Linked DNA regions of Homo sapiens: region 2 is linked to region 1. The links come from fine-mapping of genetic effects on gene expression. Tissue or cell type: cerebral cortex. Region 1 holds a variant in brackets; the other region holds the start of a gene. All regions are shown on one strand. Distances are from middle to middle.

Evidence for each region. PIP is the estimated chance that this variant, and not a neighbour inherited with it, causes the effect.
Region 2: NKAIN1 starts here. The variant in region 1 is fine-mapped to the expression of NKAIN1 in cerebral cortex (GTEx, PIP 0.96).

Annotation. Positions count from the first base shown.
Region 1 is chr1:31,577,951-31,586,054 of GRCh38, reverse strand. TINAGL1 (tubulointerstitial nephritis antigen like 1) reads right to left here. Exons shown (of 12, transcript NM_022164.3): 3 at 6,788-6,851; 4 at 2,814-2,906; 5 at 2,480-2,594; 6 at 1,254-1,377; 7 at 1,019-1,169; 8 at 715-904; 9 at 570-615; 10 at 179-302. Among named protein-coding and RNA genes, the nearest start is that of TINAGL1, 5.5 kb to the right of the region's middle. The variant C/G (reference allele first, on the strand shown) is at 3,675.
Region 2 is chr1:31,235,017-31,243,120 of GRCh38, reverse strand. NKAIN1 (sodium/potassium transporting ATPase interacting 1) reads left to right here and starts at 3,234. Exons shown (of 7, transcript NM_024522.3): 1 at 3,234-3,627. The coding sequence starts at 3,574.

The sequences.
Region 1 (8,104 bases):
CAACCTTCAATTCGACCCAGGGCAAGTCCTTTCTCTTTCTGAGTCTCAGTTTTCTCCCTATTGAAATGATGAGAGCAGTCCTGGCTTTTTAGAGAGGTTGTAAGAACCCAAGGCAGGCTCCAGAGCCCCTAGCACAAACCCTGCTGTCCCAAACCCCCTCTGCCCACACGCCCCTCACCCTGTGATCTTGACTGAGTGGGTCCCATGCCGGCGGTATCTCTCTGGCCTCCCAAGGCTCACTGGCGTGTGGCTGTAGATGCCTCCCTTGTATAGGAAGAAGTCCTCATGCACCTCCATGAGGGCTGTGGGCAGATGTCAAGGTAGGGTCCACTCAGCCCGTTGGCACAGGCACTGGAGCCTGAGTCTATTGAGATGTGCCCAGGCACCAGGGTCCCTCCATACCAAAGCTCTAAGTGCTCCCTCCAGGTGCTGCCTGTGGGAGGGGGGGACCCCTACTCCTGGCCCTACTGGACATGCTGCTGAATGCTGTGCAGGCCACTTGTGCTACTGTGCCCACTCTCAAGCAGGCACAAGCTTCTGGAACCAGGGTGCTGGATAAGGGGGTTTACCTTGGACAGGGCCATTCTCCATCAGCTCCTTCATGATCTCCTTGTCCTGGAGGGCAGGGGATGGACAGAGAGCATACGTCAGGGGTGAGACTCCAGGCTTTCACAACCCTCCTGCCTCGGCGCCCTCACCCAAGTGCTGACTTACGTTGGAGCCGAGGCGGTAGACAGGAGTGACCTGGTAGATGTCATTGTTATTAACATAGCTGTTGGGGCAGTGGGCAGTGGCCTGGCGCTTGCCCCGACCCATGGCTCGGCTGTGCATCATACAGGGGGGCGCAGGGCCAGCCTCGTCTCGTTCACGGCCCGAGAAGGGGTAGCAGTGGTCAGACACCACCCTGCAAAGGCAGCAAGAGGGAGCAAAGGCAGAAAGACTCAGTGCATCATGGCCCAGGCCATGCCCACGGAGCTCCTTGCCCTCTTCTCTGCCCACATCCCCTGTTGCTGCATACCCTCGGCGACGCAGGAACCACCAGGCACCATCGAGACGCCCACCGCGGCAGCCCTGCTGCTGGTGGGTGTCACAAGACAGCAGGTTCTGGGGCGACAGGACAGGCGTCATGTGTCCCAGAGAATGGATTGAGACACGATCGGATGCCACAGCTGGTGGGGTGAGATAGAGGGGCTGTCGGGAGGCTCAGGACTTGGCCCTCCTCTCCCAGGCGCCAGCCCTTGCCCTTGGCTTACCTGCTGTGGAGAAGGCCCAGGAGCCTGCACAGTTGCCTTGGTCAAGAGGCTCATGAATCAGGTTGGGCCACTTCTCAGAGGCCTCGAAGGCTGTGGGAAGCACCTCCCCTGGGTTCAGCACTGTCTGCAAGATAAAGGTTGCCCTGTCTGCCTCCTGCTCTGCCCTGGCCTGCCCCTCAGGTGCCCATTGGCACTGGAGGGCCACCAAGTCCAGGGCCTTCTGCAGTTTAATCTTGAGCCCTCCTGCTGCTGCAGGATTCCAGCTGCCTCCAATTTTGACTTGTGTTGAAGAACCAAGCACCATTTAGTGCCTCCCAGGTATCAGGTGGTGGGGCGGGGCGGGGTGGCGGTGGTGACTAGTCCTGCTTCCCAGATGAGGCAGCTGAGGCCAGGCACAGAGAAGTGGCCAGGCCAGGTCCCTCAGCTTTCCATTCTCAACCCCTGCCTCTTTCCTCTGCACCTTCTGATCGGCCTTAGCTTTCTTCAGGCCTTAGCTTTCCCTCAGGGGAGGGAAGAGGCAGTAGGGTCCCGTGACCAGGCAGTCTGCCAACACAAACAGCAAGAGGCAGAAAATAGCCAGAGGCCCAGGGGAATAAGGGCAGGGCCAGGGTCTGGTCACCCAAGGCCGAAGTCTCCGCAGGGAGGGCCACTCCTGCCAGCCCCTGCCTCCCCGCTGCCTGCCACTGATGGACAAATGCTCCGGCACATGTCCCGGTCCAGGCCTGCTGAAGCTCCCCTTCCTCACCCTTTCACTTTGGGCCTGGTTTTCATTCCTCTCCCAGAGGGTCCCACTGGTGGGAAGGGAGAAGCCCTCTCCTCCCTTGGGGTTCCGCTGAACCGGCATTTATTTCCGAGAACTGCTGCCCTCTGGCCAGAACTGGAGGAGTGTGTGTCCTTCCCTTCCCAAAATACCAAGGTGACCCCCTGTCCCCTTGGGCCCTAACCCAGCTGTACTGAGACCAACAGCATTTTTCCCAGGCTGGAGAGATCAGGGGGGAGCTGATGCCAAGACCACGAAATTCAATCTGAGCATCAGTTCTTCCAGCACAGCACATCCTGTGGAAGCAGGGAACAGAGGCCCAGAGAAGGGGAGTAACTTGTCCAGGGACACACAGCCTTGTAGTAGGGGATGGTCCAGGCCCTTGGAGGAGCAGGGCACAGGGCCAGCATCCCTGAGGTTCTGAGCCATGGGGAGATGGCAGCATTGTGGGGAAGGATGGACTTACATAAATTTCATGCATGTTCATGACCGAGGAAGATGGGCGGATGGTGCCCAGGCGGTAGCGAATGCCCTCATCCAGGGTCATGCCCCAGAAGGCGCTGTGGTTCCCAGCCTGCCAGCTGAAGGAGAGGGGACGGAAGGAAGTCACAGATCTGCCGAGGCTCAGGGTCCTTGGCGTGGGTGCATGTGGGTGGGAGAGACGCACAGTGGCTGAGCGCACACACAGTCAAATCTGGGTGTAGGAGTGGCCTGCTGGACGTGCCCCACAGCACAGCATGCGTGTATACATGCATGAGTATGCATGTGTGCCCACTGAGGGTGCCTCTAGGGCCTCTCACCCATAGTTGCCCTGGTTGATGGCTTTGATCATGTCTGGATCCACCAGGCATGGTTCTTGGTCACACTGCCACTGCCTGTTCTCCTGGCAGGTGCTGGTGAGAAAAGGAGAGAAGGAAAGGGTAAGTGGGGGACTGGGGATACTTTGAAGGAATGTGGCCTCGGAGGTTAACATGGGCCAGGGAGTCTGTGCAAGTGACTGTGGGAGAATCTCTAGGTGATCCCATCCAGCCTGGTGGCTTTAAATGTCAACGTCTAGTTCATGATTCTCAAGTTTATATCTGTGGCCCAGATCTCTGCCTGAACACCAGAGTCAAGGATCTCACGGCTACTCAACATCACTACCCTGAACCAAAACACTCCCTGAACCGAATTCCTGACCCCCCTCACTTATTCCCCCTACAGTTCTCAGAAAACGGCAACTCTATCCTTCCTGGAGTTTGGGCCCCAAACCTGGCAGTCCCCGCTGACTTCCTTTCCCATGCTGATCCAGTTCATCCGCATATCCTATGGGTCTACCTTAAAAATGCATCCAGAATCCGAACCACTCTCATTCTCTCCTGCAGCCCGCCCAAGTCCGATCACCTCTCACCTGGATTCCTGCTGTGGCCTCCTCACTGTGGGTGCTCCATGCATCTGCCCCTTGCCCTGCTTCCCAGGGTATTTTTAACACAGCTGCCAGAGTGACCCTGCTAAACCTAAGTCATATCATGTCGTTCCTCTGCCCAAAACCCTCCACTGGCTTCACATCACAGAATAAGAGCCAAAGTTTGGTGACAACAAGGCCCTGCACGCTCTGTCCTCCTGTCCCCTGATCCCCTCCTCCTTCAAGTTCTGGTTCTAAGGCTCCAACTAGGCTGGCC[C/G]CTGATGGTTCACACCAATCTGCCTGCTCCCCTTCCTCCCCGCTTTTTTTTTTGAGACAGGGTCTTGCTCTGTTGCCCAGGCTGGAATGCAGTGGTGTGATCTCGGCTCACTGCAGTCTCTGCTTCCCAGGCTCAAGTGGCCCTCCCACCTCAGCCTCCTAAATAGCTGAGACTACAAGTGCACCACCACACCCAGCTAAATTTTGCAATTTTTGTAGAGATGGGGTTTTGCTATGTTGCCCAGGCTGGTCTCAAATTCCTGGCCTCAAGTGATCCACCCGCCTTGGCCTTCCAAAGTGCTGAGATTTACAGGTGTGAGCCACAGGCCCGGCCTGTTTATATTGCTTATCCCTGTTTCCTCATAGGCTGTAAATTCCTTGAGGGCAGGTATTGTTTGGTATTTTCAGCGCCTAGGAAAACAAAGCCTAGCACATAGTAAGCACCCAATGAATATTTGTTAACTGAGTCAATGACTGAGGCCATATGCTGAATTGACTAAGAGCATGGGTTCTGGAATTCAGATTCTGGGTTTCAGCCCACTGGCTGTGTGATCTTAGGAGAATCATTCAAGCTCTGTCTCTCTCAATGCCCTTGTCTATAAAATGAGGATAATACAGTGGTACCACTTTCCAGGGATTTAATGATAGGCTTGTAAAGCATTTAGCACTGGGCCTGGTCCATCATTAAGTGCTCAGAATTAATATCTACTATCACCATTCTGTTACAGGAATCCCAGACCCCACTTCTCTAGAGCTTCAGACTCATATCCCACTGACCTTCTGACATCTCTGGATGTGCAAAAGGCATCTCAAACTCAAAATAGCCCGTCTGCCTCCCACAAGCCTGCTCTTTCCTAACATCTTCAACTCTGAAAATGGCACCCAGTTGTTCACATCAGAGCTCCAGGTGGTCTGTGGTGTCCGCCCACATGTCCCCCATCAGCAGGGCTTGGAGATGGCACATGAGGAATCCACCTACCTCTCGCCCCTCCACTGTGGCCACCCTACTCCCGTCCCTCATCACCTCTCACCTGGACCCCGGCACTGCCTTATTCACCAAGTCTGCTACCCCTTAAAATTCCCGGCCATCCCCTCCCTACCCACCCCAAAGCCAGAGAGATCTTTGAAGAACGTAAATCAGACCGTGTGCTCTCTACGTGGCTTCCTGTGACTCCAAACAAAATGCAGAATCCTGGGCACAGCTGATGTGAGCCACGGAACGTGGCCTGCACCTCCTTGGGACGTCTCTCCCCTACCCCAGCTCCAGCTAAAATGAGCTCAGTCACCTCCCGGCCTTCCCACGAGCCACTCCCTCTGCCTAGGCCAGGCCTCTCCTATCCTTCTCCCTGGTCTCAGCATAAATGTCCCTTCCTCAGAGTAGCTTTCCCACCCACTCCCTACTCTAAACTGGGACCCCCGTTATCCTCTCTTTTCCCTATAACACTGGGCAGCTTGTCAGAATATACTCATTTGTTGTCTTCCCATGCCCTTCACCTTACACTAGAAATGGGACAAGGACTGTGTCTGTTGCATTCCCGCTCCATCTCCTGAGCTCAGCATAGTGCCTGTCACGCAGTAGGTCTTTAATAATAGGTGCCGACTGAAGGGCTGCATTCTATGAATTCTATAATGCTTTTACAAGCTCATAACTCTGTTATTACAAGATGCTGAACTGCCTCCTTGCAAGCTGTCCAAGGCTCCCACCTCCAATGTTGCCTTTTAAGGAGCCTCAAGGGGAGCCAAGACCCAGTATGGCTGGGCTTTCCAGCCCCAGGAGAGGCGGGGGCACTGCTGGGGAGGGCCAGAGGAGTCTGCAGGGCCGGGAAGGCTTTCCTCATCCTTCCTTTCCCTCTCTGCACACCAGGCTGTTCCCCCTCTGCACACCTAGGCAGCAGCACCCGACTAGACTCTGGAAGCATCCTTTGAGGGCTCTGACACCCTGGACACTCCCCCACCCTCGCCCCCAGAGCCTTCATGAGGAGAGGGCAGTAGACTGTTCTGTCCTTTCCTGCCATCTCCTCCTTTGCCCCCAGGGCTGCCCACACAGGTCCAGGCAGGGCCGGTGGTAGCAGGTCCCAGCATTCCAGAGGGGGCCTAAGGGGCCAGGGACAGCAGTGAGAGAGAGAGAGACAGAGAGAGAGAGACAGAGAGAGACAGAGAGAGAGAGACAGAGAGAGAGAGAGAGAGAGAGAGAGAGAGAGAGAGAGAGAGAGAGAGAGCGCATTAACCCCTCAACGTCCAGAGCCATCCTATCAGAACCTGCAGACGCGGGCCAGGCATGTTTTATCCTTTTGAACACACACACACACACACACACAGTGCACACACAGTCACGCTGAACACCCAGACACATGCTGAAACGTTCCCTCCCTCACTGTGACCCGGGCACCCCTCACCCTAGTGAGGCAATGGAAATATCTTATGCGCAATGCATTCCAAAAAGTTTCCTTCTCTCTGGGGCCTCTTAGTCCCAGGCAAAGAGGGAGTGGGGGTGGAGTGGGTGCAGGGCCGCCTCCTCCAAGTCGCAGGCTCCCCATTATTTCTATTAAGGCTTTCAGGGTTTCCTACCTGGCCCTTCTCCACTTCCCATCTCAGACTGAATAGGGGGGTACCCATGACCCCTTCCTCCTCCTACTGGGAATGGTGGGGAGGGGTGGGGAAGGAAAAAGGGGCCACATTTCAGGGAAGGCCCTGCTAGAGGCTGGCTGGCCGCCCGCTCAGCCATCCCTGACCCTCATCCGCTCAGGGCAGCGGATGCTGCAGTCAGAGCTTTCCTTCCTGGCGCCCCCTTCTCCCTCTGACTCTGCAGTGACAGCAGGAATAGCTGGGAGGAATAGCCCAGCCCAAGCCAGGAGGGGTGGGGAAGGATCTCAGTTCAAGGGTGACCCCTGGGCCAGGCACCCATGGCTGGCCATGCTTGAGGAATGTTGTTGGAATGATGTTAGATAAGTTGACTTGGTCAGTGTTAAAATTCCTCTATTGCAGATGAGGAAACTGAGGTTCAAAGAAGGGAAAAGACTTCTCCCTTGCAAAAGGGGTCAGGGATAAGATTTGAACCAAGTCTGTCAGCCACAGGCTCACAAAGCAAGACCCCTCTAAGCTCCAAACACTCACCAACGGTTACAGTTGTCCCAGTACGTTCCCAAGACTGGATAGATACGACCTCCATGCATACATCCTGTTGGAAGGGAAGAGAAGAGAAGTGGAACCAGAACCAGAGAGGATGGGCTAATTGGCCAGGTCCTTGGAGGTCAGGTACCTTGAACCTTTCCAAGATTCTCTCTCTTTCTCTCTCTCTGTCTCACACACACACACACATACCAGCTCTCACTGAAATTAAACTATAACTGAAGACATCACACACACACACACACACACACACCAGCTGTCACTAAAATTAAACTATAACTGAAGGCATCACACACACACACACACACATACCAGCTCTCACTGAAATTGAAGCCAAACTATAACTGAAGATATCACACACACACACACACACACCAGCTCTCACTGAGATTAAGCTATAACTGAAGACATCACACACACACACACCAGCTCTCACTGAAATTAAACTATAACTGAAGACATCACACACACACACACCAGCTCTCACTGAAATTAAACTATAACTGAAGACATCACACACACACACACACACCAGCTCTCACTGAGATTAAGCTATAACTGAAGACATCACACACACACACACACACACACACACCAGCTCTCACTGAAATTAAACTATAACTGAAGACATCACACACACACACACCAGCTCTCACTGAAATTAAGCTATACTGAAGACAACACACACACACACACACACCAGCTCTCACTGAAATTAAGCTATAACTGAAGACATCACACACACACACACACATACCAGCTCTCACTGAAATTAAACTATAACTGAAGACATCACACACACACACACACACACACACCAGCTGTCACTAAAATTAAACTATAACTGAAGGCATCACACACACACACACACACATACCAGCTCTCACTGAAATTGAAGCCAAACTATAACTGAAGATATCACACACACACACACACACACCAGCTCTCACTGAAATTAAGCTATAACTGAAGACATCACACACACACACACACACACACACACACACACCAGCTCTCACTGAAATTAAACTATAACTGAAGACAAATCCTGCAGGGTCACACACCAACTGCTGTTTGGGAAGTTCTTCAATGATTCCAACCTGGATTCCTCTTACTTTACTTGGATGCCAGCCACAACATTCCTGGGATCCTTTTCCATTTAAATAAGTTAGGGCTTGGAGATGGGGAGTGGGAGGAGCATGGGGAAGCCAAGGCCCAGAGAAGGTAAGCAACCGTCCTAAGATAACACAGCACTCTTGAGATGACAGCTCAGGTATGCAGTCTGCCGGCCCAAGCCCCATG
Region 2 (8,104 bases), 340 kb after region 1:
CCCAGGCTGGAATGCAGTGGCACGATCTTGGCTCAGTGCAACCTCCGCCTCCCGTGTTCAAGTGATTTCTCCTGCCTCAGCCTCCTGAGTAGCTGGGACTACAGGCGCCTGCCACCACATCAAGCTAATTTTTTGTATTTTTAGTAGAGACAGGGTTTCATCATGTTGGCCAGCCTGGTCTCAAACTCCGATCTCAGGTGATACACCCGACTCAGCCTCCCAAAGTGCAGGGATTACAGGTGTGAGCCACCACGCCCGGCCAAAGAGACCCACCTTAAAGTCCAGGGAGAAGACACAATTGGCTTCATGGGCATGTGACCTCTGCAGTCACACAGGACCCTGCATGTTTTGTTTTCTGTTCTTTGTTTTTTTGAGACACCGTTTCACTCTGTCACCCAGGCTGGAGTGCAGTGGCACAATCTCAGCTCACTGCAACCTCCATCTCCTGGGTTCAAGCAATTCTCATGCCTCAACCTCCCAAGTAGCTGGGATTGCAGGCACATGCCACCACGCCCAGCTAATTTTTGTATTTTTTTAATTTTTATTTTTTGAGATGGAGTCTCACTCTGTCACTAGGCTGGAGTACAGTGGCGTGACCTTGGATCACTGCAATCTCCGTCTCCTGGGTTCAAGCGATTCCCCTGCCCCAACCTCCCTAGTAGCTGGGATTACAGGCATGCACCACCACGCCTGGATAATTTTTTGTATTTTAGTAGAGATGGGGTTTCACCATGTTGGACAGGATGGTCTCGATCTCCTGATTATCTGCCCGCCTTGGCCTCCCAAAGTGCTGGGATTACAGGTATAAGCCACCACGCCTGGCCTAATTATTGTATTTTTAGTAGAGATGGGGTTTTGCCATGTTGGCTAGGTTGATCTTGAACTCCTGACCTTAAGTGATCCGCCTGCCTTGGCCTCCCAGAGTCCTGGGATTATAGCGTAAGCCACAGCGCCCGGCCCCCTGCATGTTCTTGACTTCACGCTCTGCTGTGTTGCCATCTTGAAATTCTTAATTTTTTTTTTTTTTTTAGATGGAGTTTTGCTCTTGTTGCCCCAGGCTGGAGTGCAGTGGGGTGATCTCAGCTCACCACAACCTCTGCCTCCTGGGTTCAAGCAATTCTCCCACTTCAGCCTCCTGAGTAGCTGCGAATTACAGGCATGTGCCACCACACCTATCTAATTATTTTTTGTATTTTTAGTAGAGACAGGGTTTTTCCATGTTGGTCAGGCTGGTCTCGAACGCCTGACCTTGTCATCTGGCCAGGCCTCCCAAGTGCTGGGATTATAGGCATGAGCCACTGCGTCTGGCCGAAATTCTTAATTTTTTAACAAGAAGTGCTGCATCTTCATTTTGTGCTGGGCCCCCCAAACTATGTAGCCAGTCCTGGAAGAAAACAGTGACACATTTATTTGCATGCTTACTATGTGAGCAGCAAACAAGTGACAGTGCTGGAACCGGGACCCAGGCCGTTTGGGTCCAAAACCACGGGTCCTAACCTACATCTTACCATACTTCCTGTCTCTCGAATCAAGAGGGCTAGTGAGAGTGGAGAGGAAGGGAAAGAATAAGAACCTTCTGTTTCTTCCACCAGAACACTCTTCACTCCCCTGCCTCTCCTTCCTTCCTATTGTCGTCTCAGTATCAGTTTCGTTTCCTCAAAGAGGTGTTTCCTGGTCCCCAAACCTAAATTATGCCCCTCTCATTCTCTCTTTTCTCCCTTAGTATTTTATTTATTATTTATTTATTTTGACAGAGTTTCGCTTTTGTCGCCTAGGCTAAAGTGCAATAGCATGGTCTTGGCTCACTGCAACCTCCACCTCCCGGGTTCAAGCGATTCTCCTGCCTCAACCTCCTGAGTAGCTGGGATTACAGGTGCCTGATACCATCCCTGCCTAATTTTTGTATTTTTAGTAGAGATGGGGTTTCACCACGTTGGCCAGGCTGGTCTCGAACTCCTGAACTCAGGTGATCCACTCACTTTTGGGAGGCCGATCTCCACTCAGGTGGAGGTTGCAGTGAGCTGATTCAGCCTCCCAAAGTGCTGAAATTACAGGTGTGAGCCACCGTGCCACGTTTCTTCTTTAATATTCTTTAGAGTATTCATCAGAACTTTGCGTATTTATTTGTATATTTCCTTGTTTTAATGACAATCCCTCACTAGACTGTGTGCTCAATGAGGGCAGAGATTTTGTCGGGTTTTGTTCCCTTATCCCCAGCAGAGAACCTGGCACATAGTGGGTATTTCATAAATGTTAGTTGGAAAGTACAGTTTATAGAATGTAGTGACAGATCAGATGTAATTGTAGGGAAGCCTGGAGGATGACCTAGGAAATTCCACTTGGGTGATGCTAATTGCCAAGGTGAATATAGGAAGTTAGGAGTGGGACAGGAATGATTATGTGGATTTGAGATGTGTCCAGTTCGAGGGCTTTTGGGGGTGGCTTGGAGAAGGCAATCTTCTGCTGGGAAACTTCTGACTCTGTCCCTACTGCAGCCCAGGGTAGGGGCTCCCTACCTCCACCTGGGCAGATCTCTGCCATCACCCATCTCACTGGCGTGCTCTTGGGAGCCTATCTGTTCCCTGGGCGGTGCAGCTCTACGGGATTTGGAACAGTGTTGCAGGTCTCATCTCTGGCTCGCAGGGCCCCCAGGGGTGTGTATGCAGTCAGGGCTCAATAAATGCCAGTAGACGGAAAGAAGGAAGGCGAAAAATGTGGCCAGACACTCAGGGGAGAGGCTGGGGTGAGGAGCAGATCTGGGAACGTAAATAGAACTAGAAGTCCAAGTTGGAACCCTGGAGCCCTAGAGACAGGGTGGACAAAAAAGTGTTCCAAGCCAGGAGGCCAGGCACAGGGCTAAGCGCTTTATTCACATGACTGCATTTCATCTTCATATCTACACTAAAGAGGCATAATTATTCCTACTTTGTTCATGAGAAAACAGGTCCAGAGAGGTGACGTGATTTGCCCAAGGTCACACAGCGAGTGAGCAGCAAAGTCTGGATTTGACTCAGGGCTGTTGTCCCCTAAGCCCGCACGCACTCTTCCACTTCACTCCCTGCCTCTCCAACCCTCCACCTCCCTATCCCTCTCCCCTCCCCTCCGGCGGCTCCCCCGCCCCACCCCTCTGCCGTTCCCCCCAACTCCCTCCCTGTCGGTGGCGGCGGCGGAGCCACGTGGTGGGGCCGGGAAGCCGCGGCCGACGAGAGCCCGGGCGACTGCCCCAGCTGGGCAGTGCTGCTCTGCGCTGCGCCGCGCTCGGGGCTCGCTCTCCTTGCTCCGCGCTCCCCGCCAGCCGCCCCGGGGCAGGAGGCGCGCCTGACGGACGGCCCGCTAGACAAAGGAGGCGCGGCTCGGCGGGGCCAGCGCGCGGACGGACGGACCATGGACTCGGAGCGCGGGCGGCCGGCCCCAGCCTTGGGGACCGGACACTCCCGGGCCCGGCCCTAGGCGCCCGGCCCCGCCGCCCGGCGCGCCCAGCGGGGAGGACGTGGAGCCCGCGCGGCGCGAGCAGGCGGCGGCCGCGGAGCAAGAAGGGCGCCGCGGCGTGCGGCCCGCGCAGCCCCCGGAGCCATGGGCAAGTGCAGCGGGCGCTGCACGCTGGTCGCCTTCTGCTGCCTGCAGCTGGTAAGCGTCGCGTGCCCAGGCAGTCGGGGCAGGGTGGGGCGCGGCGGGGCGCGGTCCCAGGGCGTGCGGGTGGGGTTGCGTGTGTCTCTGTGTGTGTGTCTGGTGCGTGTGCCCGGGCGGGGGGTGGTCTGGAGTCTCGGAGCGGTCGGGCGGAGCCTGCTCCCGCTGGCCGGGCTGTCTCTTTGTGTGCGCTTCTCGCTGCTGTGCCCGGCGCTCCTCCGGTCCCCAAGTGCGTCCTGTGCGCGAGTCCCCGGCCCGCCCGCACTGTACAAGTGGCCTCCTGTTGGGGGATGCGCTGTGGGACGGTGGCTTGCTGGGACTGGGGGTGTGTCTGAGGCTGATCTGTGGATCCGTTGAGGTCCTGCTGTGTGTTTCCCTCTAGATCCCTCGTTTGCATGGGTCTCTCCCTTCCTCTGGGTCTCTGCCTCTGATCACCACCCCTGTGTGAGCGTTTCTCACAAAGTCTCTGCTCCGGCGTGTGTCTCTCAGGGTTTCTCTTTGGTGTGTCTCTAAATCGCTGACCATTTCTGGCCCATGTTCATCTGTGTTCTGGGATCTTAGACTCCAAGAACCCTCCAATCCTTTGTGTTGTTTCTGCCTCCCTTCACCTTCCTGACCGGGCAGTCCTGGGAAAGGAGAGCCACCTCCCTGGAGAGGGTCACCAGGAGCTGCCAGATCCTGGGCCAGCCTGACCCAGCCTGGACCACACTTCCTGCTTTGGTCTGGCCGCTGTGGCCATGGGGGTTCCATCAGTCATCAGTTCCACCCACCAGAGCAGCTCCTCTGCCGGGGCCAGCAACAGTGGGGATGGGGACACTTGGGTGCCCTAGGGAGGACCAGAGCATCTGAGGACACTGTGCCTAGCCCCAGCATAGGGAACTCAGGTTCTTGTCTCAGGGAGGAGTGACTGTAGTGGACTAGAAGAAACAGCACTGCCCTTCAAATCAGGCCCTGGCAGGGGAATTTGGGAGGGTGGTTAAGGAGAGGCAGGGGTCTCCTACCTACCCTAGAGCTGAGATTGAACAACTAGGGAGGTTGAAGCTGTGCTTCTCCTCTAGGCAGAGGTGCATGGGGACCTCCATCGCCGAACCCAGGTCTGAGAGTGGGCAGCGAGGAGCCTGAGCCCCCCTCATGCTGGACTCCTTGTTCTGGGTTTCCACTCTTGCCTGCATCCATCACGCCCTCCCCACCACAGGAGCCAATGATAATGTAGAGTGAAGTTTTGAGCCTGGACATGCAGACCTCCTCATTCGTCTTGCTTCTCTCCTCCTGGGGACACCAGCTTCAAACATGCCATCCACAGACCTGGCCTGGGCAGTGGTGGAAACAGCCCTAGCTCTGGAGATTGTAGCCCTGCTCCCAGCTGTGGGAGACTGGACAAGTGACTTCCCCCCACTGGCCGGCCTCAGTCTTCTTATCTGTAAAATGATTATCCCTGAGGATTGCAGAGGGAATTAATTAAGATCAGGTGGAATGGGAACTCCAGAAGGGCAGAGATTGTCTGTTTTTCTTTATCTACTTTGAGGAACATGAAATGCCAAGAAATGTTTAAACCTTTCAGAGGATTCTTCTGTGTTTGTTAATTTTTTAATTTTAAACTAGGGGTTTTTTTTAATTAGAAAAGTAATATACATATATTGTAAAAAATAAATACATACATAATCAAACAGGACAGATAAATAAAAAGTAAGTTTTCTAGGCCAGGCATCGTGGCTTATGCCTGTAACCCCAGCACTTTGGGAGGGCGAGATGGGCAGATCACCTGAGGTCAGGGGTTCGAGACCAGCCTGGCCAACATGAAGAAACCCCATCACTGCTGAAAATACAAAAATTAGGGGTGGTGGCACGCATCTGTAATCCCAGCTACTCGAGAGGCTGAGACATGAGAATCACTTGAACCCAGGAGGCGGAGGTTACAGTGAGATGAGATCACGCCGCTGCACTCCAGCCTGGACGACAGAGTGAAACTGTGTCTCAAAAAAAAAAAAAAAGTTTTCTTCTCTCTATAACTAGACCCCTCCCCAAAGGTGAACCTGTTAGCAGTTTGTCCCATGCTCATTCTCTGTTGGCGATAATAACGGTTAGCTTTGGAGAGCCCTTGACTAAGTGTCAGGTACTCTTGGAAGCACTTTTCCAGGTATTAACTCATTTAATCCTAACAGCCCTATGAAGTAACTTGTCCAGAATTCTACAGGAACTAGGACCCAGGCTTTGTTTTGGGGGTTTTGTTTTTGTTTTTGTTTGAGACATGGGCTCACTCTGTCATCCAGGACAGAGTGCAGTGGTGCAATCATAGCTCACTACAGCCTTGACCTCCCAGGCTCAAACAATCCTCCCACCTCAGCCTCCTGAGTACCTGGGACTACGGGGGCACACCACCATGCCTAGCTAATTTTTTTGTGTTTTAGAGGTGGGTCTCACTCTTGTTGCCCAGGCTGGTCTCAAACTCCTGTGGTCAAGCCATCCTCCCACTTCAGCCTCCCAAGTGCTGGGATTATAGGCATGAGCCACCACATCCAGCCAGGATCCAGGCTTTGAATCCAGGCAGTTGGCCAGGTCCTCTGTTGCCTTCTTAATTATAAAATAAGTAGTTCTGGCCCTGGTAAGTCTGGGGCCCCATGGAAGGAGCTCATGGCTCTAGAGAGAAATGAAGGTGGTAGAGTGTCTCTCTGCCTCCCACTTCCCTTCCTCCATAGTTCTCCCTTGCTAAGCTAACCCCACTCTTCCACTTAGAGGAGCTCACCAGCACTAGAGGCTTGAGTTAGATGAGACCTGGGTGGCATTCTGGTTTCTCCCACATCCCGGCTGGGTGGCTTTGGGCAGCTTGTGAAGGTTGCACAAGATCATTTGCGGGAGGAACTTGAAAATTGCTCTCTTGGCTCTGTTGCACTATCTGGGCTCATTGCAGAGTGGGCCCTCCAGTTGTCACTAACCTCCATGAGCCCCTACTGCCTGATAGCTTCCATAATGTGCCCCGGGATGTTGGAATTCACCAGCCTGAGGGGAGAAGGGAGTCTTGGTTTTCTCATCCAAGGGACTGAAGGGAAAAAAGAGGCTGTTAAATATCTTTCAGCTGAAAACTTAGGAGGAACTGTGTCATTTTTCTTTCTCAAATGGAGTTTAATCGTTACAATGAATCAGGCCAATTCGAAACATTCTTCCTCAGTTGGGATAGATGTGATTTGGGTGAGGGAGTGAGGTGTGAGGGTGCCATGGGGTTTAAGGGAAGCAGGTAGGGACTGTGCCTTTCAGATGGATAAGTGTAGGATAGTAGTTAAGGCTCTGAAGTTTGACAGGACAGACCTGGCTTTTAGACCTGGTTCTGTCACTTCCTGGCTATGCAATTTTGGGCAAGTTGCTTACCGTCTCTGAGCCACATAGTTTTGTCATCTGTTAAATAGAGAGAATATAAAACAGTTCCTAATCCTTAGGGTTGTTGTGAGGACTCAGTCCATATAATGAATTTAGCACTCTGGCAGGTACAGAGTGAGTACTCATTAAACTGTAGCTTATTGTTATTATCTTAATGATTCATATCATGGGATGTGTCTGTGGCACTGTAGCCCAAACATATCCAGGTGACCCCCTGCACTGTCCTTTGTGGACTGTCCTTTGTGGGAAGTAGCAGGTAGTTGGGCACTGAGCTGAGAGGCAAAAGACCTGGATTTAAGCCTGGCTCTGCTTCTGACATCCTGCAATTTGGGGCAAGTCTCTTCCACACTCTAGGCTTTGGTTTTTCCATCTGTAAAATGGGAGGCATTATTGGTCTGGCTCGCTGGGATCCTGCCAGCTGTACTTGTCAGGAACTCAGGGTGGTGCCTGGACTGGCATGTTTTGTTTATTTATTGTTTATTTTTTAGAGATAGGCGTCTCACTGTGTTGCCCAGGCTGGAGTGCAGTGGCAATCATAACCCACTGCAGCCTCAAATTCCTGAGCTCAAGTGACCTTCCCACCTCAGCCTCTCAAATAGCTGCAGCCTCAAATCCCTGAGCTCAAGTGATCCTCCTACCTCGGCCTCTCAAATAGCTGGGACAACAGGTGCATGTCACCACACCTGGCTTTGGCATGGCAGTTTTGTTGCATCTTGATCCGGTTCCTTTCTGTAGAACATCTTGGGTCCCTTGCTTTCCAGAATTCTTTTTGGTGTATCATTTTGACAACATTATTAACATATTCACCCTCTAATTTTTAATCCCGTGCCTTTTCTCTCTCCTTTCCAAACCCAGCTCTTCCTTGTTCACCTCCTTCCTGAAACCTTACAGGCCACTCTGTTCTTCCTGGAAGGGGATGAACCAGTGAGATTTGCCCTAGGGAATCCCCATCAATTTCTTCATCATCATCATTATCATTCCCATTTCAGGAGTCCTGTGCTAAGCACTTTATATGCATTACCTCATTTAACCAAATGAGCATACATATGTAAAGTGCTTGGCAAAGTGCCTGGTGCATGTTAAATGATCAATAAACGTTAGCTCT